Regions from separate parts of the Homo sapiens genome. Here all the other regions are reported to be linked to region 2. The links are microRNA targets in miRTarBase. Many come from high-throughput screens and were not tested one by one. Region 2 holds a microRNA gene; each other region holds the end of a gene's coding sequence.
What was found. The annotated mature microRNA hsa-miR-4428 reads CAAGGAGACGGGAACAUGGAGC and lies in region 2 at 2,138-2,159, opposite strand. An mRNA with a match to its seed (bases 2 to 7 or 8) in the 3' UTR can be bound and repressed. Matches are read on the target gene's strand: a 7mer-m8 pairs with bases 2 to 8, a 7mer-A1 pairs with bases 2 to 7 and ends in A, and an 8mer does both.

Region 1 (4,000 bases), not on the chromosome of region 2:
GGAAGCAACTTAAAGTGAAGGTCAACCGCCTTTTTGAGGCCCAAGGTATTGGCTTAGCAGGGACTGGAGATAAGAAGGGGAGGGAATCATCAGCATGGACTTTGAAGGGCAGGGATGGGAAGTCCGACCCTCAGAGATGGGCAGTGTCCGGGGCAGCCTGTGAGTGGCCCTGGAGGTGTGCACAGTGGTTGGTTGTAGCTGCCCAGGGACAGAATGGACAGGGGGACTTCTACAGTCCTAGTCCTGTCATAGTTTCTTTTCCAGGTCCCAGGAACCGCTTGGGGTGATCTCACGTTATACATCGGGGCATGGCATGGGGATCAGATAGCTCTGACTGAGGAAACTCAGAAGGCTTCAGTGAGTGAGTGAGGTCAGAGCTGAAATTCTTGATAAATGCAAGCACTCTAGATTGGTCACAGGTCTTGGAAAAACCTGAGGTTCTTTGGGCAGCAGAGTTACGCGTTTGCAGGCTCTTGGTGACACAGGAGCAGTGGTGATGCCTCATCTGGTGCATTGCAGAATTGGAGGCCCATCCCTGCCAGACCTCCAGGCTGAGTTTGGCAGCATTAGTGCAGCGTCAGCCCCTTTCCTGGGCCTGGCTCCAGAGCCAGCAGGAGGCCCGACGTGCTGATGGATCATCTTCTCTCCTAGGCAAACCGGAGCTGAAGGGTTTTAACTTGAACCCCCTCAACCAGGATGAGCTTAAAGCTCTCAAGGTCATCTTGAAAGGATGAGACTCAAGAACCAAGATGGGGGACCAGCAACCCCCCAGGGTCATGGAGGACCCAGGACCCTCCAACCTTGACACCTGTAAGGACAGGATCTGCCCTGTAAGGGGCCAGCCGTCAGGAATCTGGCCATGAAAACCTCTTTGTAGTGCTTGGCTACTCTGTGATGGCAGGAGGGAACCTTCAGCCTGTCTGGCTGCTGGACCTGGACACCAGGGCTCGGTGGACACAAGATCTATTGACGGGCCTTGGTAGCCACCAGTGGGTGTGTGGGGCAGTGGCTGTGGGGGTGTAAGAATGACTGCAACAGGCACTTCCCAACAATGGCCTGCTGTTCACATGGACCCTGAGCAAGGAAGGAGGGAGGGAGGGGCAGAGTGGAGTGTCATTCCAGCATTCCTCTCAGAAGGGAGAGAGGTTTTCAGGCTGGTGCCATGCGATTGGAATAAAGCAGGAGGCTCATGGGTGGTTGCTGAATGAAGAACAGAATCTTGGTGCTTTGTGGCTCACCACAGCCATCTGTGGGGCAGGCACACACACCTCCCGCCAGCTCCAATTTTGCACTTTTTCCCTGCTTGATTCCAAGAGTAGGTGCTGCCTAGCAGCCCTTCGTGGCCACTCTTTACTCAGGAGGGCCTTGCAGAGTCCTGCACCAGGCCTGGGTGAGTGGATGCGCCTCTTACCATATGACACGTGTCAAGATGCCCTTCCGCCCCCTCTGAAAGTGGGGCCCGGCCAGCACTGCTCGTTACTGTCTGCCTTCAGTGGTCTGAGGTCCCAGTATGAACTGCCGTGAAGTCAAAACTCTTATGTGTTCATTAAGGGCTCAATAAATGTTAGCTGAATGAATGAATAGCAGCAACTAGTCTTTATTTGCCTCATCTAGTCCTTCAGTAAGGGCACGCCACTCCATTTAGAATACAACCTATGAACATGGTTCTTGCCTTGAAATAAACCTGTGATTTGACAGGCGGGTGATAACAAATGGCAGCATGGCAGGGGCACACCTCTCCTGGTCCCCCCGCTCCTTGGCTCTGGCTCATAGTTACATAGAAACACAGGCTGTCATGGCCAGTTCTTACGTGTTTTCAAGAGAAGCTAGACATATGGGTTGTGAAGTTGAATCTCCTTTTAAATATTTTTGACTAATGCAGAAACTTTTAAAACATGAGTGTGGGTCACAGGTGTTAGCTCCAGATAGTGCAATACCATACAACTATAATCAAGAATAAGGAACAAGCTCCAAGATACATCAAGTGAGGAAAGCAAGGGGAAGGCTGGTGTCTTATAAGCTAATAATTTTTGTGCAAGCACAGTGTGATTCCCTCAGAACAGCACCTGCAGGGTTGGGGCGCACAGGTGGGAGGGAAGGAGATGTCACCCTATACCCTTTTGTAAACTTTGGATTTTAAACCGTATGAATATATTGCTTATTTTAAAATGTAAATAAAGTAGGGAGTTGCAGAATTCACCTTGCTAGATGTTGTCCAGTGTGACTGCCTGATTCACAATTTCATCACTGGAAAATTGCCCCTTCCTCCCTGGCAGGGTGGGTGCTGGGCCAAAAAAAGCTAATCGCATTCCTTCTGGAAATAGGGAACCTGGAGTCCATGCCTGGACCTGTCTGGGTTGGTGTGCCTCAGGTACAGGGATGAGTGGGAGAAGTCCTCATGCTCTGAAGGCAGAAGGTCTAGAGTAGCCTGGCTTCTGGCTTTCCTAAAGTCGGCTGGTTCACTTCTTGGATTTGCCAGTATTTTCCTTCCAAAAGTCTTCCCTTCGGGCTTGACCTAGGCAGGCAGATTCAACCATTTGCAGCCAGAGAAACTACTCTGAAGCAGGCGGAGTGGTAGAGGGAGTAAGTCCCCCCTGGAACAGTTACCCCAACAGCCCCGAGTCTTGTTGCAACCCCTCTTAAACCAAGAGGAAGCTTAGCAATGTAAGATGTGAAAAGGCAGATTTTTACTCACACTCAACTCCCGAAGCTGTCCTGCCCATGAGCCCAGGGTTTTCCGGTTTCTGGCTCAGCTCCCAATCTCAAACACAAGGCCTAGAGAAGCACTTAAGTCACCCATCTGACTTAGATAAATGCACCTTTGCAGAGACCCTCACTAAGCTCTGCCTCCCTGGTCTGTCTTGTCCATCTGAGAAATGGGGATGCCCTGTCCCACTGGTTTTCAGATGATGGTCAGGGAGCCCCATGGGCTCCCCTGACATGCAAGGAGAAGAGGATGTGTTTAGGGCTCAGTACTTCCCCAGGCCCCCAATAAACACACAATCTAATAACTGCTTGCTGTGTAAGCACAGCTTAAAGACGAGTTCCTTAGCCTCCAAACTCTTGCTCCTGAAGGACCTTTTCAGCACTGACTTGGGAGGTATCCAAGTGTCAAAGCCAGGAGGACTTGGCTGCAGCCAACAGTATCCCCGGAACCAGGCCTGGTGCCCAGTGACTCCAAGTAGGGCCTGTGCTCATTTATTAGATATGATCTCCTGGGGGTAGCAGAACTTGCTGTATTTGTTCTCTTTGGGCCTAACTGCCAAGTCAGTTTGTCAAGGTTAAACCTCCCCCAGTCCCAGTGATTGGCTGTCTCCTGGTGCAAAGATGCCTGGGGATGGGCTGGAGGTATCCAAGGGGCCCAATTCAGGTAGTAAGCTGCAGCTGCTAAGCCAGCAAAGCTGGTGCCAGGCTGGAGGTGGGGAGGCGAATGCTGTGAGGTGCTGTGCTGGGATCTGGGAGTGGGGGGGAGGCCTGGGTGGCACCTGCTAAGGCTGATTTCCTCCTGGCAGCTGGGGATCAACTGGAAGCTTTCTTCTGAACTTGAAGGGAGCAGAAGAGCTGCCTCAGTTGTTTCTTCCGATCGTTGACGCAGCCTGGAAAGGAAGTGGGGTGTTGGCTGGGATGACCTATGCTTGGGAGGAGTGGAGGGGCCTGTGCCCCAACTCCCTGCTGGGAAGAGGGGACAGCGGGAGTCAGACAACCACACACAGCCTGTGGTTTATATCCTGGCTCCATTCCTAAACTGCCATGGCCCTCAAGCAGGTCAGTTACCCTTTTCAGCATCGGTCTTCTCATCTGTAAACCAGGATACTACTGCCCACCTTATGGAGTGAACATGAGGACTGGGGGCTTACCTCAAGCCAGGAACTGCTCCAGATGCTGAATGTGGATGGATTTGTTTGGCCCTCGCAGGAATGATGTGTAGAAGGGAAAACAGGCTCAGAGAGGTTAAATCATTTGAACCCAGACTACCTGGTGCCAGAGCCACACTCTTAAC
Region 2 (4,340 bases):
CCTCCCCAGTAGCTGGGATTACAGGTACCTGCCACCATGCCTTGCTAATTTTTGTATTTTTAGTAGAGACAGGGTTTCATCATGTTGGCCAGGCTGGTTTCAAACTCCTGACCTCAGCTGATTTGCCCACCTCAGCCTCCCAAAGTGCTGGGATTACAGGTGTGAGCCACCACACCCGCCCACCAAATACTTTTTTATGTACTTTACAAATATTAATCATTTAATCCCCCTAACAGCCCTATCGGGTAGATAACACTATTGTCCCTGCCACTAAATTAGTGGTAGAATGTAAAGAATAATGGAAAAAGCAATTTAAAAAAAAAAGTAAAAGCAAGGTGGAAAAAATAATTGGTGTTACTGTTCATTAGACCCTTTCTTCTCTATCCTTTGGGTCTAATGACTTCCCATTTGCTATTTATCACAAGTTTTGACAAGCAATTCCCTGTCCTAGAGAACCCAGTGTTTTACTCTTTTTCTTTCCTCTAATTTGAACTCCTTGGTCACCAAAGTAAACAGCGGTGTACATATTTCTACAGCCTATGCGTGCAAAGACATATATACATATTACACAGGGTTTTTGCCCCTTCTTTCCTCTTTTCATTTATTTCTTTCTACTTTCATCTTCACTTTTTTTTTTTTACAAAAATATATCCTATCACACATTCTAAAAATGAATTTTCACTTAAAAATATATTCTAAATCTATTTCAGGATATACATCTAAACAATTCTTTGCAATACCTATAATATAGCTGAAAATGTTGTTGTAATATAATTTAACTATTCACCTATGATTCATCACTTCATTTCCAATGTTGTTTTTTAAGGCAATCCTAGGCATTGTTCTGCATCTGGCAATGGTAAACGAGGTGTTTCAGGCCAGCCATCAACCAAAACAACCAAGGCACTGGGGACCTGCCAAGGCAGTAAAGACTAGAATGGTCTAGATCCCAGGAAGACAATTAACCCTACTTTTGATCCCTTTTCTACTCAAGAATTCTTCAGTTTGAATCTGCAGCTAGGGCACTAACGAGATGAGGAGAGTGTGTGTTCAGCAACGTCAGACTTATTACAGAGAGGAAAAAAATGATGCATATGTATGCACTTTGTAAAGAGCAAAGCACAATTGAAATAAGTTATATACATACACATGTGCATCTCATCATTGTTACTGCCTCTAAAAACTAAGCAACACCACTTCCTCTGGAGAAAAAACAGTTCATTAAAAGCATAAATGTTAACTACAGTAGAAAAAATTGTTCAGCAAAATATATTTTAGATACTTAAAAAACAAGAGCTACAAAGTATCATGGTCATATTGCAAGTCTGATGCTAGGGAGCTGAGTTTTAACCTTGGCAGTAACAATAATTTTTCTAAGATTTTGAGTCAGTCATTTAAATGTTCTTTGCCTCAGTTTCTTTTCCTCTAAAGTAAGAATGTTAGATTAAATATACTCTAAGGGTCCTTCTTTCCCTTGACTTTCATTATGTTATCTCTGAGCACAGGGCTTCCCTTTTCATTAGGAATGCCTGCAATCAACAGATTGACTGGAAAAAGACAACAGCAAATAATAATTTGTATCTGATGAAACTGTGCCTGTAACTGACAAAACTGAAGACTCTGAAAACACTGGACTGTACTTGGTTGACCTTAAAGGATGCTTGGCTCTGTTCATGTCTTTTCTCTCTCTGTTTTCCAGTTAAGCATTTCGCTGTGCAGTTGATTCAGCCAGTGTTAACACTCTGCTCTGAGGCTGCCCTGCACCTATCTCTTTACAGATACCACTGGGTCCAGCAGAAGACATGAGCATTTTTTAAATGTCTTCTGTAGCTTTCCAGTGATTCTGGACACTTGGCCCTAAACATTTATCCATTTTTGTAATCTATGCCACCATCTTGTTACTGATACAGGAGTTAAGGAGAAATTATTTAGGCAGATAGTGAGGGTACAGGAGTCCTTGGTAAGGTTTACCTTTTAATGAAGAGCAGTCCCAAAATCATGTTCTTTTCTAACAAAGAGCAGCCTGCAAAATCGAGCTGCAGACATAGAGAAGCAAGTTGGAAGCTTCCACGGGTGAATGCCAGCAGTTGTGCCAATAGGAAAAGACCACCTGGGACTAGGCATGTTCAAAATGGCGGCTCCATGTTCCCGTCTCCTTGCCAGCCACGTGTACAGTAAGGAGCAGGCAACATGGCACCTGCCAAGTGGAAAGCCTGTTTGCATAAGATTAGGGTGGAGCAGCCAGCCTTCCTGGCCAGCCTTCCTATGCAAATGTCATACCGAGTCCAACCAATCTTTGGGCCCTATGCAAATCAGACACTGCTTCCTCAAGCCTGCCTATAAAATCTGGTGCACTCTGGTGCAGGCCAGATTTCTCAATCGTGATCTCTCTCTGTCTCTCTCTCTCTCTCTTTCCTCTCTCTCTGTCTCTCCTCTCTGCCCCTATCTCTTCCTCTCTCTTTCCCTATCTCTCCCTCTCTCTCTTTGAGACAGCTGTTCTCCTTTCTCTTTCTTTTGCTTATTAAACCTCTGCTCCTAAACTCACTCCTTGTGTGTGTGTCCATGTCCTTAATTTTCTTGGTGCAAGACAATGAATCTCAGGTATTTACCCCAGACAATGACTTTGCTTCAGTACCACTTATTTGGTCACTTCTTTATGCTAGAAGTTACAGGTTTTTCCTTAATATATTCTGCAATTAATGCACAGTCACTACATTCATGTTATGATACTCTTAACACCCTCATCTCATAATTATTTTTGTTTTTATTACAACAATCTCCATTTCTATCTTACTTCTGCTGCCCAACGATCTAGCAGTGCCCAAGAACTCACTATGACTCAAATTTTTGTCCTCCACTATCTAAACTCTACACATTTTTGTCCTCCACTATCTAAACTCTACAAATTTTTCTCTGTGACTTAAAATTACTCTCTCTGATCATGGTTGTTTCTCTGTCTCTATTCAATTCCAACAAACCTGTCCCTGAGTGGGTCTTTATCATGCAAAAGTCTCAGAACTATTTTGTATGGACAGTGGTATTTTTTGAGTGAATTTTAATGTTCATCCATCCATTCATTCAACAAACAATACTAGACACCTATAGGTGCCAGATGGTATGGTAGATCCGGAAAGAACAAAGATGAATGAAACCATGCCCCTATCTTCAAGAAGTTCATTACTAATGAAGGAAACTGAGAGGAAAAATAAGTAACATAAGAGGGCATTAGTGATAAAGAAAGGCAAATAATGAAATACTGTGCAAACAGATGGAAGAGCAGTAGATTCATTTGGGTGTCACTGAGGCAATCTATGGCACTAGAGAGGTCAATTATGTGTGAGCTAGAGAGCTCTAACAAGTTCAAATAACTGATTTAATACTGGTAAGTCCAAAATCACTGATAAGTCTTCACAGTCATTGATAAGTCTCCACAATACTGAAATAAAACTAACATCTTATTAGAGATGTGTGTATCGGGTTGACTGCCTATAAATATTTTACTATTATACAGACCATTTGTTAGTATTTACTAAATTTCCTTTAAATAAAATATTACACTCTAGGATTTGGAAAATGAACTGTCTCCCCAATCTATCCAAATAATCTTTTGAATACAAGGAAAACAATGAGAACTCCAAACTGATCTTCTTATTTATAGAATAGACTAGCAGTAATCAATTTGAAAAAGAATGAGAATTCTGGCTCTTTAGTGGTTTTCAGGGCTTTATAAATAGGTTTTTTAAGATATAAATGGACATGATATTGTTAGATGACTATTCAGAAATGACTAATGAAAATACTAATGATTTTTCAAGAAATAAAAATACTTAACATAATTTAAAAGGAAAACACTTATATTACACCAAACATCAGAGTTTTTTCTTTTTGTTTTTTAAAGATGGGGTCTCAATATATTGTCCATGTTGGAGTGCAGTGACCATAGTGCACTACAGCCTCAAACTCCTAGCCTCAAGTGATCCTCCTACCTCAGCCTCCTGAGTATCTGGGACTCAGTACACACCACCACACCTCACTCAAAGTTGTTTTTTTTTTTTTTTTTTTTTGTCTTAAAGGATACGAAGCAAAGAAAAATAGGAGTGATCTATCACAACAAGGAAAAAACTAGAAAACATACCTGAAGAAGCTTCCAGTCTTTCCAATCTGCTGATCAACCAGTCGAGGGAGCCAGAAAATTGAGCACAGTTTTTACGATTTCCTCTAATTAGAGCCGCTGCAAAAGAAGAAATAGATTTCACCTTTATGTGATTTTCTAGCTCGAAAATTGAGATAAGCTAATATGCAGCCCTAAAATATTGGATCAAGAACAAAATATCCTCTGT
Region 3 (4,340 bases), not on the chromosome of region 2:
GGGATTACAGGCGACCGCCACCACGCCCAGCTAATTTTTTTTTTTTTTTTTGTATTTTTAGTAGAGACGGGGTTTCACCATGTTGGCCAGGCTGGTCTCGAACTCCTGACCTTAGGTGATCCACCCACCTCGGCCTCCCAAAATGCTGGAATTACAGGTGTGAGCCACTGTGCCTGGCTTTGTTGGTTTTAACAGTTCTTTCCCATGCAGGCTGCAGCTGAACAGCCAAGTCCCCTCCTTGGGTCACATATTTTTCTGAAAATGTTATAAAAAAATTGAGTCCACTGGCCTGGGCTAATTACCTAGCAGAACATCCCCATGGTTTGGTGATTCTGAATATCGCTGCCAAACAAGCACTTGTAGAGGCTCAAACAAGGCCATAAAACATGGCAATGGGGGCGCGCTCCCACTCTGGGAAATGAAAATCTGACGATACTTTGAATTACAGTGGATCAAGATTAATTCCAGGCTCTACTTAGAGGAAGCTTTCAGGCCCAGTGGTTTAGACATAAAAGCAGTTTGCCCTAATGCGGCAGGTGAAAGCTGTGACAACTCTATTGCTTGGTGCCAATTACATTTATGGACTTGTACCCAGGAGTGCTAGGAAATTGTCACCATTAGTGCTGACGTACTGCCAGTTGTTGGCTCTGTCTAGTGGGGTTCTGATTTGAAGACTCATTATTAATATTCCCTGTAGTGATCTGCAATGCTGCTCCATTATGGCAAGTCTGTCAGGAACGGAGTTTGTGTAGGAATTTTAGAAAACAGCAATAGGTTGAGGGCTATGTGGTAGGCCCCAGAGCTTCTCAAACTACTGTGCACACAAATCACCCAGGGTCTCGTTGAGATGCAGATTCGGAATCACGTCCTGAGCTGAGGCTTGATACTTTTCTTCTTTTTTGGAGACAGGATCTCTCTCTGTTGCCCAGGCCAGAGTGCAATGGTGCAGTCATGGCTCACTGCAGCCTCAAATTCTTAGGCTCAAGCAATCCTCTCACCTTGCCTTCTGAGTAGTTGGGACTACAGGCGTTAGCCACTACGCCTGGCTTTTTTTTTTTTTTGAGATGGAGTTTTGCTCTTGTTGCCCAGGCTAGAGTGCAATGGCATGGTCTTGGCTCACTGCAACCTCTGCCTCCTGGGTTCAAGTGATTCTCCTGCCTCAGCCTCCCAAGTAGCTGGGATTACAGGCATGAGCCACCACACCCGGCTAATTTTGTATTTTTAGTAGAGGCAGGGTTTCACCATGTTGGCCAGGCTGGTCTTGAACTCCTGACTTTGGGTGATCCACCCGCCTCGGCCTCCCAAAGTGCTGGGATGACAGGCATGAGCCACCATGCCCGGCACCTCGCCTGGCTTTTTAATTTTTGAGATGTCTGGCTCTGTTGCCCAGGCTGGAGGGCAGTGTTGCGATCTTGGCTCACTGCAACCTTCGCCTCCCAGGTTCAAGCGATTCTCCTGCCTCGGCCTCCCAAGTAGCTGGGACTGCAGGCGCAAACCACCATGCCAGACTAATTGGCTGTTTAATTTTTAATAGAGATGGGGTCTTGCTTTGTTGTCCAGGCTGGTTGAACTCCTGGCCTTAATTGATCCTCCTGCCTTGGCCTCCCAAAGTATCGGGATTGCAGGAGTGAGCCAACATGCTCAGCCTGATGTTGCATTTCTAACCAGCATCCACGTGATGCCACAGATGCTGCTGCTGCTCCAGCGGGAATGTGGGAAAAGCACAGGCTCAGGAGTCAGATGGACATGGGTGGACATGGGCTCTAAACCTGACTCTGCCCTTGGTTGCTGTGTGATGTTGGGCAAGTTGCTGAACCTCTCTGAATTTTGGATTTCTCATGTGCAAAATAGGGATCACTTCTGCCTTTTAGGTTCTTTGAAGATTTATAATAACGTACATGCATAGGTTTTCTTCTTGCTCCCAGAGGGGCAGGGTGAGGTCACTCTCCTGCATGCTCTCACTACAGGTTCAGCTGAGACCGTTTTTCTTCTCTAAAGTACTTGGCTTTCTTCTTCCAAGTCAGGATTTCTCCGCCTCGGCGCTACTCACATTTTGGGCTGGATCATTTTGTGTTGTGGGGGATGCTCCGTGATTACCGCATTATAGAACGTTCAGCAGCATCTCTGGCCTCACCCACTGGATACTGGTGGCACCCGTCTCCCCTACTTGTGACCACCGAAAATGTCTCCAGGCACTGCCAAATGTTCCTGGAGGCAAAATCACTCACAAATAGGAAATAATGACCTAATTAGTAACTTACATTAGCAATTCATTCAACAATATGTGTTGAGCATCTACTGTTTGCCAGACCATACAGCAGGGATGTAGTGATATTTAAGACAAACAAGGTCCCTGACCTCATGGAGACTTTTTCCTTTTTGGACCTCAGTCTTCTCCGCTGTAATGTGGGTATCACAAGGCTGCGGACCTCCTAAATTTGTTGGGAAGATGAAGTTAGACTTGCAAGTGCCTGGCCCCTGGCATGAGGGATTAGCCAATGCCAGGGGTATGATGGGCCTAGGGATGGAACCTGGGAGCTTGGGGAGAAGCGAGTGTGGGCAGGGACAGTGCATGGAGAAGCCAGGAAACCTGAGCTGCAAGGGAGGCGGAAAGGGGCCATGAAAGGCCCTGGTGCAAAGTGTGCGGCAGCAGCAAGGCAGGGGAAAGGGGCTGCAGGGAGGGCCAAGGGTAGCAGGAAGATGGGACCAAAACTGGAGAGAAGGAGAGAGACAGTGGGACATAGAGGATGACAGGAAGGGGTGGAGATGGGAGGAGAGAGGCACAGATGGAGAAGATAAAAAACCAGACAGACAGACATGTACACACGTGATAAGACAGAGAGACCAAGGGGCGGAGGGAAAATGAGTCCAGGCGGAAGGGAACACCTCTGAGGAAGATCACTGCACAAACCCTGGTCAGCTGCACATGACCCCAAAGAGTGGCTCTTAGGTTTATTCCAAACGTACCTGATTTGGGTGATAAAGAGTTAAAATTAAATACAAAGGCCAATGCCAGTCCATTCCTGGCGCCAGCTCCTGCCTCTTCCTTCTCATGGGGCCCTCACCAGAGTGATGGGGTGGAGCATACCCAACCCTGGGAGGAAATGAGGCTTTTGTGCCGAGCGGCAATATGATGGCAATACTGGCAGTGGTAGTCAACCCATCTGTAAACAGCTGACAGAGGGCAGTACAAGAATCCACCTCACAGCCAGGGCCGCAACCGCAAGTAAAGCACACAGCTGAAATGACTGACGTGGGTGGAACTGAGCTGAGAAGGAACGTGGCTCGGCTTGACCCTGGAGCACACATCACAACCATGAGAAACAGGCAACTAAAGTGACCTCCAGCCCACAGCAACAACCTTCTCTGGCTACAACTGGGAGGCAGGGACAGACCCCAGAAAACCATCTTGGGTCATCTAAGGTACGTGTAACCATATTTTTAAAATGACAAAATCTCAAGCATGTTGCTTTGGTGAGCTTCTGATTTTACTAGAAATACACTCTAAGAACAGTCGAGACGCCGCGCCTTGTGGAGGCGATGGGTCATGTTACTGGTTCTGCGATGATCTTCCAGAGCTCCTGCAGCAAACAGAGAAAAGAACAGGTTTCTGAAGTGCACATACAAGAGCATCACAATTTCATTAAGGAAAGTGATTCACCAAGGAGAGTAGTTAGACAACACGTCAGCCACGGAGCAGGCGAGCTGGGGCAGGAGCGGACGGGCGGCTTCCTCCTTTCTTTGTTGCTCTGGGCTGTTCTATTTTACTGTGGCAGAGAGGCTGGATGGATGAAGTCCCAGCATTAACGGAAGGTGCATCAGAGGATGTCAAACAATCAGAAGAGACCAGAATAGCAGTGAGTTGCCGTATCTCTCCATTTTGGGGGAGATCTTTATAAACAATTTTATTTTAGAGACAGGATCTCATTCTGTTGCCCAGTCTGGAGTGCAGTGGCACCATCACAGCTTGCTGCAGCCTTGAACTTCTGGGCTCAAGCAATCCTCCCACCTCAGCTTCCAGAGTAGCTGGGACCACAGGTGTGCACCACCATGCATGGCTAATTTTTTTTCTTGATTTTTGTCGAGATAGGGTCTGTGATGCCCAGGCTGGTCTCGAACTCCTAGCTTCAAGCAACCCTCCGACCATGGCCTCCCAGAGTGCTGGGATTACAGGTGGGAGCCACCGTACCTGGCCTTTTTGGGACGTCTTAGGCATCATGTATTGGGGCTGCTGACTTGTAAGAAATGTGTGTTCTTGGTCATGTGACGCTACTCTTAATGCTGCCCAGAAGTGGCAGAGCAATAAATACAAGATCCTCCTCGCACACAAAACCACACGA

Region 1: miRTarBase lists TTLL9 as a target of hsa-miR-4428. Seed matches in the 3' UTR shown: 7mer-m8 at 2,945-2,951 and 7mer-m8 at 2,097-2,103.
Region 3: miRTarBase lists METTL22 as a target of hsa-miR-4428. Seed matches in the 3' UTR shown: 7mer-m8 at 2,721-2,727.

The regions. Positions count from the first base shown.
Region 1 is chr20:31,942,541-31,946,540 of GRCh38, reverse strand. TTLL9 (tubulin tyrosine ligase like 9) reads right to left here. Exons shown (of 15, transcript NM_001008409.5): 15 at 1,541-3,596. The coding sequence ends at 3,520. PDRG1 (p53 and DNA damage regulated 1) reads left to right here. Exons shown (of 5, transcript NM_030815.3): 4 at 1-45; 5 at 652-2,204. The coding sequence ends at 734. Among named protein-coding and RNA genes, the nearest start is that of PDRG1, 7.5 kb to the left of the region's middle.
Region 2 is chr1:237,468,983-237,473,322 of GRCh38, reverse strand. It overlaps MIR4428 (microRNA 4428), which reads right to left and starts at 2,204; the gene lies at 2,132-2,204. It overlaps RYR2 (ryanodine receptor 2), which reads right to left. Exons shown (of 105, transcript NM_001035.3): 17 at 4,136-4,231.
Region 3 is chr16:8,645,349-8,649,688 of GRCh38, reverse strand. METTL22 (methyltransferase 22, Kin17 lysine) reads right to left here. Exons shown (of 11, transcript NM_024109.4): 11 at 35-3,581. The coding sequence ends at 3,546. Among named protein-coding and RNA genes, the nearest start is that of METTL22, 26 kb to the right of the region's middle.